Linked DNA regions of Homo sapiens. The protein of the gene in region 2 purifies or fractionates together with the protein of the main gene of each other region. This does not show direct contact. Each region holds a gene or a part of one and is shown on either strand. Other genes may lie near its edges.

The links. The genes of interacting proteins can lie anywhere in the genome.
Region 1: the proteins of CRIPTO (region 2) and MYCBP2 purify together in Homo sapiens (affinity purification with mass spectrometry; 3 studies listed by BioGRID and IntAct, with this or other methods). This does not show direct contact.

Annotation. Positions count from the first base shown.
Region 1 is NC_000013.11:77,044,143-77,051,104, forward strand, and holds the end of MYCBP2 (E3 ubiquitin-protein ligase MYCBP2), read right to left. Parts: coding exon 6,855-6,962; intron 1,352-6,854; coding exon 1,236-1,351; 3' UTR 515-1,235; downstream 1-514. UniProt on the Homo sapiens protein: Atypical E3 ubiquitin-protein ligase which specifically mediates ubiquitination of threonine and serine residues on target proteins, instead of ubiquitinating lysine residues.
Region 2 is NC_000003.12:46,572,932-46,580,789, reverse strand, and holds the start of CRIPTO (protein Cripto isoform 1 precursor), read right to left. Parts: upstream 3,003-7,858; 5' UTR 2,821-3,002; coding exon 2,786-2,820; intron 1,696-2,785; coding exon 1,643-1,695; intron 1,559-1,642; coding exon 1,424-1,558; intron 1,052-1,423; coding exon 937-1,051; intron 840-936; coding exon 730-839; intron 1-729. UniProt on the Homo sapiens protein: GPI-anchored cell membrane protein involved in Nodal signaling. Cell-associated CRIPTO acts as a Nodal coreceptor in cis. Shedding of CRIPTO by TMEM8A modulates Nodal signaling by allowing soluble CRIPTO to act as a Nodal coreceptor on other cells.

The DNA.
Region 1 (6,962 bases), on a different chromosome or scaffold from region 2:
TTGAGTCTAGGAGTTTGAGACCAGCCTCGGCAACATGGCAAAACCCCATCTCTACAAAAATTACAAAATTAGCTGGGCATGGTGCTGGTGCATGCCTGTAGTCCCAACTACTCAGGGGGCTGAGGCTGGAGGATCGCTTGAGCCCAGTTGGAGGCTGCAGTGAGCTGAGATCACGCCGCTGTACTCCAGCCTGGGTGACAGTGTAAGACCCTGTCTCATAAATAAATAAATAAAGTTAAAAATGCTGCTAGTTAAAATAGAAGTTAATTTCCTAAATGCTTTCTTCTGTCTTTGGTATGAATATATTTACCTACGAATATATATATATATATTTATGATCTTCTGCTTAGGGTTTAAGATTCCAACATTGCACTTCATTACTATTCTTATTTTCTCTAACAGTTTTGAAAATTATGAATGTGTTGTGTTAGTAAATTTCTTTCTGAGGAAAACTGGACTTTTAGACCTTAAAGGTGTTCAAATTTTGTTTTTTAAACAATACCTCCCACAGTGGTAGACTTTATCACTGTATAAAAATGTACAGTGGTTTTATTGACATGTACATTCCAATATGTTTACAGCTGCAAGATAATGAGGCACACTCAGTATTGCACTTCATTAAAATTTCAGGCTCAAACTTAACCTAGAAGTTTAAATGAAATTGCATTTGTAATTTAGTAATTCTTATACAGGACAAACATTGATATGTTTATATACAGTGTGATACTTATTACATTTATATGCTGTCCTAACACAATGTTTTTTTTTTTTTTAAATAACAGTCTAGGAAATAAACCAGAATATTCCTCTTTTTATCCCCACCCGTGATGCAATTGTACAGGATTACAAAAAGGCAGTATACAATAAACAATGATTATTTTTCTTTTTTGCTTGAAAGCCAGCATCGTTCTTAGTCCATGGGCATGGCGATTCTTTTATATCAATTATCTATAAATGTCCAATGCTTCACAGGCCAATGACGGTAATGGCCACATGCAAACACCTCACAAGTTTGATGTCATTTGTTCAAAAGAAGATAAACCAAAATAATGGGGAAACTTTTCATAGCAAGAATTATGTACATGGTATTTGGTATCCTTCTTGCACTGTGAATGGTTCATTTTCATGGATGTAAAAATGGTCCCGTCCTTATCCTGAGCAGAGTTTAAACTTCACCGCATCCTCTTGGGGGATGAAGGCAATTTTTCTCTCTGTAGACAAAGGATCTGCGTGTTCTAAAAAGTGTGGGCATTTCTGCACACTCCACATCCCAGAGCAAACTCTTCCCCAGTGGGTGGATGAACAACATGGAGTGGACATTCAGTTCCTTCTAACTGCTTGCCTTTGGGACCTGTATAAATTTGAAGGAGGCAAAGGAAAATAATGTTTTAAGAATACACACATATAAACCTCACAGAAATATAAATCACTGATAGGTTATTCAAAGAAATAACATGACTATGGTTATACAAATATAACATTTAGAAATTTTTCTTCTGATCACAAAAGTAAAAAATGTTCACTATAAAAAATTCAACACAGATATGTACAATGGAAGAAGTGATGGGGTCCCTTACTCACTATATCCTGCCTAGAGAGGATCACTTCGAGCTACAGATCTTTTTCTATTAATAAATGCATCAGATATATCATTTTAAAACAGAGTAATGAACAAAAAAGGTCACAAAACCCCTCAATTTAGTCTGGCAGAACATTATTTTTCTGAATAGAAAACAGGGAGATTTTTGTGTAGAATGTTTTTCTATAAGTAAAAACATTTAAGTTTAAAGAAGCCATGTTTTCCCTTTTATTTTTACTGATGAAAAAGCCCACACTGGTAAAATGGGAAGGCCAATGATTCCTGTAATTTTTAAAAGTACCTGAAGGATATTAGCAGGAAAATGAAAGTTATCAGGTTAAAAACATGAACAATGTTATAAAATACAATGTGGAAAAAACACTTTGGGGAAGATATGAATTTGTTGATAATAATCAAAGTAGGCCTATCAAATGTACCAAAAACAGTATTTTAAAAAAGAAAATTATTATATTAATGTGCTTCACGTCATGGGTTTCATATCATTTAGAAAAGATTTTTAGTTCCTTTAGAAACCAGGAGGCTTACTTTGTCAGAAAAACACGCTAGGCTTATACTTGAAAGCAGAGTCCCTATTTAATAGTAGATGAAGGAATAGGAACTCTGCATTAGTTTTCTACAGCTAGTTTTCAAAATAATAAATCTAAATTCTGATTGTGCTTGAGAGAAAAATATCACGAGATTGGATGGAATGAGCTTACACTGATCAATGAGGAATGACGTCTCATTTACTTTACCTTTTCTAGGTTTAAAAACATTTCTGACATAAGAGAAGGAAACCATGATGGATAAAAGGCTAGCATTTATAAAGCTCTTAGACTGCACAGTATAATACCCAATAAATGTTGGCTATTACTACTATTACTGAACAACCACAAACTGAGGCCTGATCTAGAGGAATAAAAAGTAAGTTCTGTACAAGAGTAAGACCAAGACATTAGAGTGTCAAACTGAAGACAGCTAATCTCAGAGAAGTCAACTTCAGGTTAGAGCTAACAGGCATGAGAGTGGCAATGAGTGCCACCTCAGACAAATGCAGGCACAGACCTCAGGATGGGTCAGCATGGGAGGATGCCAGAGGTTTGCTAGAAAGTTAATTATTCCTGTTAGAAAGTAGTTCAGTAGCTCCTGCTCCAAATCACACTGCAGATTGGTGCCCACCCCACCAGTGGGTGGGGGAGAGTGCGCAGGATGGGGACACTCAATGGCAGATCTAGTTCAGATACACAACATATCAATGGTGGTGACACAAACTGCAGCCCTTGGGTTTTTTCAAGGAAAAAATGAGTCATTTACTCAACAAATATTTACCGCATGCCTAATATATGAAGGGCATTCTTAGGTACTTGGGATTAAAGATGAAAAGTGCATGGCTCCCATCTTCAAGGTGTTCACAATCCAACATGGTGGTGAGAAATAAAAATAGTGAAAACACACCTGCAAACATCTGAGTGCTTACTACTGAGGCACTGTTCTAGTATATCAGCTACTTAACCATTTAACAGTCATAGGAGGCAGAAACGATTATCCTCATTTTGTAGATATGAAACTGAAGTAAAATTATTTTTTCTGATTCTTAGATACCTCATCTTTAAAATAGACACAGCAATACCTAACTCATGGGGTGCTGTGAAGATTAAGTATCCTGGCACGAGAAGGTAGTCAATAAATATTTTAGAAAGAAATGGATAGAGGGATTATGCTATGGTCTGGATGTTTTTGTGCTCCTCCAAATTTATATACTGACGTGTTAATGAAAGGAGTTAGTTTGCCTTAGGTAGATAGCAAGGGAAGGGTCCCCAGAGAGCCCCAGGTCCACAGGTCAGTGCCTCATCCCCATATAACATAAAAAGCAGTTGGGGAAAAAAAGTCAAGCTGCAGGCACCGATGAGGGAACTAGCACAGGGCATTGTGCCTAAAGACATGCCCACGGCTGCACAGACAGAAAAACCTTCAATCAGATAAAGGACAAGACCTGGGATAGAAATGCCTTTGTCCTTTGTATAGTCAGGGGGCTCTCTCCTTTTGTGGGCATAGGCACAGTGGGCTCCAGTGGGTTCCTGGGCCAGGGTCCCGGGCCAAGCTGAGTCACGCTGCGGGCCAAGACAGCCCACAGACTAAGCACATTCCTTCCCCTTTCCAGTCCATAAAAACCCTGGGCCCCAGCCTCACGGGAGCATCCTGTTTGGGCCCCCCTCTCTGCTGGCAGAGAGCTTTCTTCTTTTGCTTATTAAACTTTCGCTCTAACCTCACCTTTGTATCTGTGCTCCTTAATCTTCTTGGAGGTAGGACAAAGAACTCCTGGCATTATCTCAGACAATGAGAGACTGTTATATCTTGGTGCACTGCTGAGACTACAACATTAACACCAATGTTATGGTGTTAGGAGGTGGAGCTGTGGGAGGTGATGAGGTCATGGGGTGGAATCCATGAATGGGATTAGTGCTCTTCCTATCAATGAGACCCAGGAGAGGCCCCCTGCCCTTCCACGACAGCAAGAAAGTGCCACCTATGAGGCTGAGAGTGGGTCCTCACCAGACACCTCGACTGCTAATTCCTAGATCTTAGACTTCCTGGTCTCCAGAACTGTGAGAATAAATTTCCACTGTTTATAAGCTACCCAGTTTACAGTATTTTGTTATAGCAGCTTGAATGGATGAAGACTGATTATCTAAAAATATTAGAATTAACAGGGTTGAGAGTGGTTAGAGAATTGCTTCTTCTGTCCTTCTAAGTAAACTGTATATGGCCATCTTCCCTACTCACATCCCTGTGGGATCTCCTTTATTCTATTCCAGTTCTCTAAATGAATGGATGAGTTAGAGGGATGTGTGAGGCTGGGAGAGTATACCTCAATCTCAGTGTATGTTCTTAGGCCAGTTCATTAACCTCCCTAGCCCTCAATTTTCCATTTGATAACATAGGGATAATACCATCTACTCGCAGATTGTAAAAATGGAGCAAATATGTGTGAAAATGCCCAGGACCGAGGTCATTCCTTCCTTCTGCCAACTCTGGCTCCTCCCCCGCCTCCCTCCTGTGATTCCTTTGTGTTGGCTGCCCTGATCCTGTGAGGAAACCTGACCCTCCTCTCTCAGCTACTACCCACCACTGAGTTCTCTAAAGTGTTTCATTGTTAACTTCCTTATTTTTAGCATTCTTATTTCTGTTTTTTAACATAGAGGAAACTTTAAGTAAAATCTAGATTTCCCCTGAAGATACTGCTTGCCTTAAATCTTTCTCAACTGGAGGCTGGTTATCTCCCAAGCTCCTCCAGGTCATATGGCTACAACGTGTGACTGATTTTTCTCTTGGCTCCTATTTCTTTCCAGACCACAACCTACAACTTTCATTCAATAATTGCCCTTCCTCCAAGCTCAAGTCATCTAGAGTCATCTAGAATACTGCCCTTTCCACACTCCCTTCACTTGCTGACCTCCAGCACATCACCCCCTCCCTCCAAGCATGGCTCACATCTCTGTTCTGTCCATTATCCTCCATAACCTGGCTTCACATCATTCTGGCCTTGCTTCTTTCAAAGCCTGCTACTTCTATTAAAAAAAAACAGTATTTGAGGAGAAACAGTAAAACAATTTTTATTTGACATGAGCAAATGGTAAAAAGTAGTCATACTTGAAAAAACCCTACTTATCTTTATTTTGAAATGGATAGTATATGTTTCACATGGTTTAAAATCAAAATGTTAAAAATGATAACACAATTGGAAGCAACTTTCCCTAGTCTCTACCCTCATCTTTTTCTTGCTTTTCCCAATAGTTAATCAATAGTATTAGTTTCTTGAGTATCTTTCCAGGGGTTTCTTTATGTAAATATAAACAAATATGACTAGATAGTCTCATTTTCCCTCTTACAAAAGGCAGCATACTGCATACTCTGTTCTGCAATTTGCTTTTTTTTTTTGAAACAGCTCTGTCGCCCAGGCTGGAGTGCAGTGGCGCAATCTTGGCTCACTGCAACCTCCGCCTCTCAGGCTCAAGTGATTCTCTGGCCTCAGCCTCGTGAGTAGCTCGGATTACAGGTACCCGCCACCATGCCTGGCTAATTTTTGTACATTTAGTAGAGATGGGGTTTCACCATGTTGGCCAGGCTGGTCTCGTACTCCTGACCTCAAGTGATCCACCTGCTTCGGTCTCCCATAGTGCTGGGATTACAGGTGTCAGTCACACCACTTGGCCTAATTTACTTTTTTCATCTGATGCTATCTCCTGAAGATCTTTCCAAATCAGCACACAGAAACACCATCCTCACTCTTTTTTTTTTTTAAACTGATGCGTAATATTAGCCACTACCCTACTGGACACTAGCATTGTTTATACATTTTTATTATCATAGCAAAGCTGTAGTTAATAACCTTGTTTATTTGCCCTTTTTTACTGTCCTCACATTTGTAGCTATATCCCTGAAGAGGGAGTGCTGAAGGGTTGATACGCTGGTAATTTTGAGAGGCACTATTAAGCTGTTTTCCGGAGAGGTCTATCACTTGCACTCTGATAGGCAGCAGATGGCAGTGTGTGTTTTCTAGCTTTGACAACACGGTATATTGTGTTGTATGTACTTGTGCATGTATTTTCACTAATTTCAGATATATCTTATGTAAAATTCTCTCCTATGGTTGCACGGACCTCTCCTTCCACTTCTCTCACTTCCGTGAAGCCTGGTATTCCACCTCACCGTTGCCACTAGCCTCCTGTCCTCTTCCAGTATTTTCAGCTTCTTTTTGGTTTCATACTTCTTTCCCCTCAGCCTGCTTTCCATAGACAATAATTTCTCCTGTATTCTGAGTGGTTTCTTTAATTCCCTTGACTTTCTGATGCTCACTACACTACTGATTCCCAGCCATTCTAGATTAAATCACTTGGTTCATTTTATGGCAACGGTTCCAGGCTTCGTTAAAAAAAAAAAAAAATCACAGAATCCTTTTAAATGGTTCTGTAATATTGAACTTCATATGACTTTTTAGTGCTGAACAGCCATCTTTTCACCAATCCTTAGTAGACTTCATTCTCACTCCCCATGAGATCTGCTCCGTCACAGCTAACTTCTCACTCATGATGATGAGCCTGCTTCCTAATTCACCCAGAAAGTCATAAGCTTACAAGGATCAAGGAATTCCTCCTGCTTCTTTAGGCTAGTTTGAATTGAGTTTCTGTCACTTGAAACAGAGCTTTCATATAATGTTTACATAAAACTATGGTATATAGATCATAATCGTGATTTTAAAATATTAAAAGCATACCTGCAGGACAGTGTGGTAGTTCTTCCTTAGGAATGCTAGTCATTCTTTGAAAATCATCATGACAAGCATTACAAAAATGTGTTGTTCCAAAACAGAAAAAAACAGCCA
Region 2 (7,858 bases):
GTTTGCTTTCATTTACTTCCTGGACTTGAATATTTTCCATTTCTAACATCTCCAAGGCCCAGAACTATAATAGGTCTCTGAATTTGGGGGGCCCTAGAAACCTGGCTCAGGCTAGGGTGGAGAGAGGACTGTCGCCTCTTTTCCTCTCCAGGTGCTGCCCTTCTTTTCATTGTATTCCTCAAATCAGTAAAAATCAAGAAGGTGAAAGGGTTCTGTGACCAGTCATGGTAAGGGTTCTGTGACCAGTCATGGTAAGGTATGGGGAGGGGGTTACCAGGGACTTTTAGGACTCTGGAAGTTTCTAAAGGACTAGCAAGGGGCCAAGCCTCTGATAGAATTTGTCGTCAGGGTGGGCTCTAAATGAGCTGCCCATCCTGGTTTGGGTCCCCCTACCCAAAGGAAAGGAACACCAGAGAACATCTCTTGGTTTAACAAGAGACCGAGACTTGTTTATTTTCCTCAATAGAAGTTCAGACCATAAAATGTCAAATAGACTTGAAATACATCTCTATCTGAAAGGCAGCAGGACTAGCCAGGTTCCCGAGGAAATAAATATCAAAGAGGCCAAGGCAACTATCTCATCAGGAGTCTGCGATGCTTTTATAAGCAGAACTTTGGCTGCCAGGCTCTAGCAAGACAAGAGGTACAAGGAGAGCCTGCTAACTAAGCACCCCCCAAGGCAACTACGTAACTTCAAAGGGCAAAAGAAAGAGGAGAACCTCCGCTTACCACAGCCGGGTAGAAATGCCTGAGGAAAGCAGCGGAGCTGACCGTGCCAGCATTTACACAGGGAACACTTCTTGGGCAGCCAGGTGTCATGGGGCACAGACCCACAGTTCCTGAGAATGAACAGGTAAGGCGATAGCCTTGGGTCTGAAATTTCCACTTCCCTTTCTCTCTCCTCTCCACGGCTCCCCGCCCCTCTGAATTGCTTACTCTTTGCGCACATCGTGCTCACAGTTCCGTCCGTAGAAGGAGGGAGGGCAGGCACAAAAGGACCCCAGCATGCAGGTTCCCCCATTCAGGCAGCAGGTTCTGTTTAGCTCCTTACCTGAAAGGTAAGAACAGATGACTGAGGGTGTAGGGATGGAAAAGTGCAAGGGCAATTCCTGTAAGCGAAGGTTAATACAACACCAATGTGTTGTATCAGAGTAAGTCTCTGTGCCTTTGAGCAGAGAAGTCATTTTCATGCATAGGCCAGTGGTGGTTCTGGGTTCCCCAGTGTGAAGTGGACTCAGGGGAGGAAAACTGCACTCTAGGGAAGTAAAATACACAATCCTTGTCTCACTTCCAAAACCAAAAGCAGTCCAGCACCTGCACAGTTCCAGAACCAGGTGCCCTTTTAGGTGAAAGAGTGTTGGAAAGATACTCAGGAGACACATGAAGGGCCAGGGCAGAAGCATCGAAGTCAGGCAGTTCTTACTGTGCTGTATCCCCATGGGCGGCACACGCTGGGAAGACCGAGGCCGAATTGCAGGCTCCTCCTGGGGCCAAATGCTGTCATCTCTGAAGGCCAGGTATCCCCGAGATGGACGAGCAAATTCCTGATGGCCCAGCCCTTAACGACAAAATCAATTCATGGAGTCTGTATTTTAGGCCACATAAAAATTGAGAGTGATCAAAAGAACAAAAGGTCTCTCACCGGCAACTAATCCCAGTTCAAAGACTTTAGAAATGGCCATGATCCAAATCACACTAGGAAGAGGAAGTCAGACATGAGTTAGCCAAACAAAGGAAATAAAACCTTACAAGTTAACACCCAGGTCCTCTCATCACAAGGACAAGACCACAGATCACTGAAAAGAAATTGTAGAGCACCATCTTTCTTTTTTTAATGGCTAATTCATGTAACAAAGAAAAATGTTGAAAAAAAGTCACCAATATCCAAGTCTTTTTAATATATATTATTATTTCTTAGGCCCTGTCCTCACATAAGTACCTAATTTTAAGTAGGTATATGTCTTTTATCTTCTATTTCACATGTTTTCCCCTGCATACAATTTTCATATAAGGATTAAAAAATAGCTGCATCCCATGTTACCGATGAATCATTTTACAAACTACTGTATTTATTTATTTATTTTTGAGAGGGAGTTTCGGTTTTTCACCCAGGCTGGAGTGCAATGGTGCGATCTCGGCTCACTGCCTCCCCTCCCCAGTTCAAGCAATTCTCCTGCCTCAGCCTCCAGAGTAGCTGGGATTACAGGTGCCCGCCACCATGCTTGGCTAATTTTTGTATTTTTAATAGAGACGGGGTTTTGCCATGTTGGCCAGGCTGGTCTCCTGACCTCAGGTGATCCACCCGCCTCTGCCTCCCAAAGTGCTAGGATTACAGGCGTGAGCCACCGCACCCGGCCAAACTATTTTAACCAATCACTTAAAAGGTTTTTAGGTAAAAAATGTGGGTTTTTTTTTTTTTTTTTGCTATTATCTTAATAGTTTTGCCAAGTATTGAATCTGCTTATACCTTTAATCTTTTCGGAAGATTTTAAATTTGGTTGTAGTACTGACCTTTATTTGTACAAGAATAAAGAAACACTATTTCATAGGCAGAGTCATTAACATAAAATGAAAATTAACATTAACACGAAAATGTTAAAAGCCAATGGCAAAGTTAGAAGTAACCATGTGAAATTCCAGGTCTTTCAGGAAAAACAGCAGTGCGGTTGGCAGCTCTTTTAAGGCTTGAGCAAGAGAAAAATCAAATGACAGGTGTAGAACATTACTTCCTAAGCTGGCAATCTCTAGCAATCAAAAAAAGTTCACATTCAAGATTAGCTCATACCTGTAAGAGAAGCGGGCCATCTTCCTGCAGTCCATAGCTTTTAACAATTAGGGGGAAAAGAGGCGTTAGCATCGCTTTAATTCAGAGTCATTGCCAAAACAGCCAAAGGAAAACATTCATCTCCTAAAGCGAAAATGGCAATTTAAGAAGAAAATGAGAAATTCGTTTTCCCCAGAAGGTCGTAGCAGAAGCAGGAGCAAGGCGTCCAGGGGAAACTGGAGGGCTTTCGGCCTTGGACGTTTTGACCTTGAGCTGGAGACTCAGCCTTTCCGGGGATTCTCCTTCTTCAACAACAAACCCCAGTCGGGGCGGGGAGACCTTTCAGGTGGGCGGGACGCCCACCAGCATGACAATGGCCCACACGCGGGAAGAGGAGTCTTGTAAAACTGTGGTTAACTAGCCCTAATATCTCTATCATTAGTTGCAGGCTAAAATGATCAGAGGTACTCTTTTGGGAAAAAAAAAGAAAAAAGAAAAATCAGTTTCTCTAATCAAGTTGGTGATTCCAGGTTGGAGGGGTGGTGGAAAGTAATTGCTTTAATTAGGAAAACCTGAAAATGTATGGGTCTCAAGGCATTCGATATTTTATTTTATTTCAGGAAGTTTTACTTCCTGAAATTTGCTTCCACCTTTGTTTTTCCAGAAGGGTGTTTTGAGCCCCGTACTCCCCCTGGGGGATACCCGGGTGGCCAAGAAAGGGGTGCTCTCCGCCTGAGGAGCTAGGTGTGTGTGTGTGGGGAAGACTAGGAAGCTTGAAACTGAGATAGAAGTTCAGGGTCAGGAGGGGTTCCTTGGGGGCTCCAGACTTGAAGTGCAAATTCCAGGCGGACGTGAATTCCTGAAAGGACGCGGGAGCCGGCGCCAGGTGCCCGGGAGAGGGGAGGGGCGGCCAGAGGCGCAGCAGCTGGGACTCTCCAGTGGGAGTGCCGGCCTGTTCCAGGAAAAAGTTCTAGAACCACGGCAGTCCGGCATGGGAGGCCATTTCAGCCCCCAATCACGGGAATTTATCTCAGCCTCCCAGCTCCCACAGGGCGGCCTCTTCCAGCCCCTCGCCGTCCTGGCCCCACGACACCGAGAATTACCCCCGGACTCTGATGTGCCGCTTGCAGGGGTAAACGTGTTTATTGAGTGGTTCCACTAAGTGCCAGACGCCCCAGATGGAGAGGCGCGTCTATGAGCCGGAGTCGCCTCACCTAACATTTCAATCCTCCGGGTTATTTCATGTGTTATTAAATACGCCCAAAGTCGTTAATAGTTTCTAAATCGCATTTAATTCCAATTTCTAAAGGAAAGCCTGACGGTTACTTAATGTTGCCAGGCACACAAATGCGAAACTTTTATTAGATAGTTGTTTCCATCCATCTCTGTTTATTGGATTTAGGCCTCGGCAGAAAGAATTGGTAGCATCTGAGGCCATTTCAGCGTCAGTGCCTACCTGTGTGAATGCCATGGATCCACAGGTGCTGGGAAGAGGTGTTATTTACTTCTACACATGATTTTTTTTTTTTTTTTTTTTTTTTTTTTGCGACAGAGTCTCCCTCTGTTACCCGGGCTGGAGTGCAATGGCACGATCTTGGCTCACTGCAACCTCCACCTCCTGGGTTCAAGTGATTCTCCTGCCTCATTCTCCTGCCTCAACCTCCTGAGTAGCTGGGATTACAGGCGCCCGCCACAACGCCCGGCTAATTTTTGTATTTTCAGTAGAGACAGGGTTTCACCATGTTGGTCAGTCTGGTCTCAAATTCCTGACCTCATGATCCACCCGCCTCGGCCTCCCAAAGTGCTGGGATTACAGGCATGAGCTACCGCGCCCGGCCTTACACATGATCTTGGGAGAAGCAAACGTAAAATAATTTGTATTGGGGGAGTGAGGCCCCATCCAGTCAATGGTGGGATGCAGCAACATTTCCAACTCCACAGCAGTTGACTATTTCATTCCTGCTGCGCTTCGCCTCCTCCCTGTGTGGCCTTTTCAGGTGAAATGCTTCAGGTAGCATGCTGAGATTCACAGGGGACAGGGGAACATGGCCTGAAGCTCTAGGAGGCCGGAGGTGGGGGAGGGCTCCGCAAAGGAGAAGGCTAGCCCTGGAGCTGCAAGGAGGTTTAAAGATGTTACTCAGTGTGGTACATTTGTAAGGTAGCTTGTGCACCACAGTCCTCACCAGTCCAAGGTGCTAAGTAGATAAGTAGCGCCCACAATATTAGTCTCACTTTATGGACAAGACAACTAGTTCTATTGGGGGATTTGGATGTCTTGTCTTTAGAGACTGGGCAGGCCTGTGGCAGAACTGGCAAAAGAACACACCCCTGCGTTGCTATTTCCTTATCTAAAGCTCTTGTGGAATTTTTAGAGCTTAAATAGGACCCCTGGAAATCACTGCATTTTCAGAGGAAGTAACTGAGGTCTCCAGTCTGGCGATGTTGTCATTGACGGGACCAGAACCCCAGGATGCCAGCTTTTCAGCCACACAAAATCCCTTCTCTAAGGACCAGAACCCCCTGAAGAGATTCCCATTCCCCATAGGTACTGACTGCAGAGGAAGCCAAGTGGATCCAGGGTATTCAGAGCCTGGGCCAGGTTTTGGGATGGGGGGTGGGGAGAAGGGGAAGGGAAGGGCTGTGGTGTTTAAGAGAGGTTAGATATTTGCCGTTGGGCTGGAGATGTAAGGGCTATTTAACAGGTATTTGATGTCTACTACTGGGCGGCCTGTAGACTGGAGTTTGGCGCTGGAGAAACAGTTGTGAGAAGTAACCCCACTGTGAGGCTGGAGAGAAAGAACAGTAATTGTTGATTCTAATTGTACTAACTGCAAAAAGTTGTTGCTGCCTCCAGGTGGGGGAATTGAATGGCTACCCTAGGATGGCCACTGGTCACCTCTGCTTGGTCACTGTTGAAACTGGGCTGCTGGCCAGCCTCCAGGCCAATGAGTGCTTTGTGTCAAAAGGTCAGGCCTAGGATTGGGAAGTGCTGTGCAACGGGGGTTCCCCAATCACAGGCAGCCCATCTCATCCCTTACAAAAGGCACTGAGAGCAGAAAATGAAAAACAATGCTCTTGGTGTTGGCCATTTCTTGGTACTGCCCTTGAGACATTGTGTATTAAAAACTGGGGCAGAATTGTGTTTAAAAATCACACAAATAAGCATTTGACTTAAAACCATCCAAACAAGAATGGTGGAATGAAATACATCATAATCAAAGGACAGACTTCCTGTGTCTGCCTAAAATTCAAGGAAGAAAATAAACTTGGAGAATGGGATCAATTTTAGCTATCAAAAGCCAATTCGACCTTGTTTAAATAGTTGAGAACACGTAGAACTAAATTCCAACCAAAGAGTTAACAAAAGAATGCCATGTCTGCACTACAATGACAGTATTTCAAGGTAAAAGCCTTCTTTTATCATAGGGCACTTAGGTCTTACCTCTGTCATTGTTCCCTTGAACATCCAGGCAGGCCAGAAGATAAGAGAGAGCAGAGGGGGCGGGGGAGTTCTGTATATGTATGTACCCTCCAGCTGAGGAATGCTGGGGCCTCTAATTTCATCAAGCTTAGCTTCTGTTAACACCTGAGCTACACTCCTGCGGAAGCATTATCCACCCAATGTGTCCTGGCCACACTTCATTAACAAGTTAATGGCTTTCTGTTTTCACTGGCAAACTTACAAATTGCAACTGGAAACTTACTCTGTATTTGCCAAAGGTCTCTGTGTGGGACATAAAAGGACAGATTCCTGCATTCAAAAATCTGCAATTTCAGTGGGGAAGACATGCTCAAGCAAGTCATTTTAGAGCCATATTGTTACATAAATGGCGTAAGAGGAATGGAGAAGGGCTTAAGAGAGGACTTCATTTTTTTTCCGTGCGCCATGGGGGCCGTATCATATTTCTTCCTATGTAGACATAGTATACATTATTTTATCAATGAATAGACATGACATGTTTCCACGTTTTGTGGTGAACTTCCTTGTACATATATCTTGGTGAACGCTTGAGAGCATATTCCTCTTGTAAATTTCTAGCACTGGAATTGCTTGGTTAAAGGGTGGATGCTTCCAAATTATTTTCGAAGAAGCCTGCACCAATCTCCTCTCCGCCCCTCCTCCCTCCCCCTTGAGTTGGTATTGAGAGCTTATCTCCCAAGTACTTACCAGGTCTGGCTGCAGCAAGCATCTTAAATTTTGTTAATACAGTATGTGAAAAGTAGTATTTCATTGTTGCTTGGTTATTGGGTGTTTGTATTTCATTTTCTATGACCTGGCTGGTCCTTCTTACAGAGCACTTGGACTGGCTTCTTTGAGACTCAGCCCAAATTTCATTTGCTCTGGGAAGTCCTTGCTGAGACCATCCTCCCTACTCCAGCTTCCAGCTGTTCTGAGAGCCCTGTCCTGGCAACCACCGTCCCCAGATTTTATCTTGTCTTCACTGCATATATATATATATATATATATATATATATATTTTTTTTTTTTTTTTTTTTTTAGATGGAGTTTCACTCTTTCTGCCCAGGCTGGAGTGCAATGGCGCGATCTCAGCTCACCGCAACCTCCACCTCCCAGGTTCAAGCGATTCTCCTGCCTCAGTCCCCTGAGTAGCTGGGATTACAGGCATGAGCCACCACACCTGGCTAATTTTGTGTTTTTAGTAGAGACGGGGTTTTACCATGTTGGCCAGGCTGGTTTCAAACTCCCAACCTCAGGCAATCTGCCTGCCTCAGCCTCCCAAAGTGCTGGGATTACAGGCATGAGTCACCTTGCTCGGTCTCACTGTATTGTAAACTGCTTTGTGTGTGTGTGTGTGTGTGTGTGTGTGTGTGTGTGTTTGTCTTTCACCAACTCTTCCCCCTATCCTTTATTCCCTTGGACTAAGAGGTCCAGAAATCTGGTCTTCCAGAAACCTTAGCTTCTCCAACCTCTAGTGCAGTGTTTACCTGTGCTGATTTTCTTTTGGCTTAGTCTTTCTCCACCAGCCACATCTGTGACAGACACATATTAAATCTCAGCCCTATTTTCTAAAATGGGGTTGGGGCGAGGGCAAGGTCCTTGAGAAGTGCCACAGGAAAACAACTTGTTTCCTC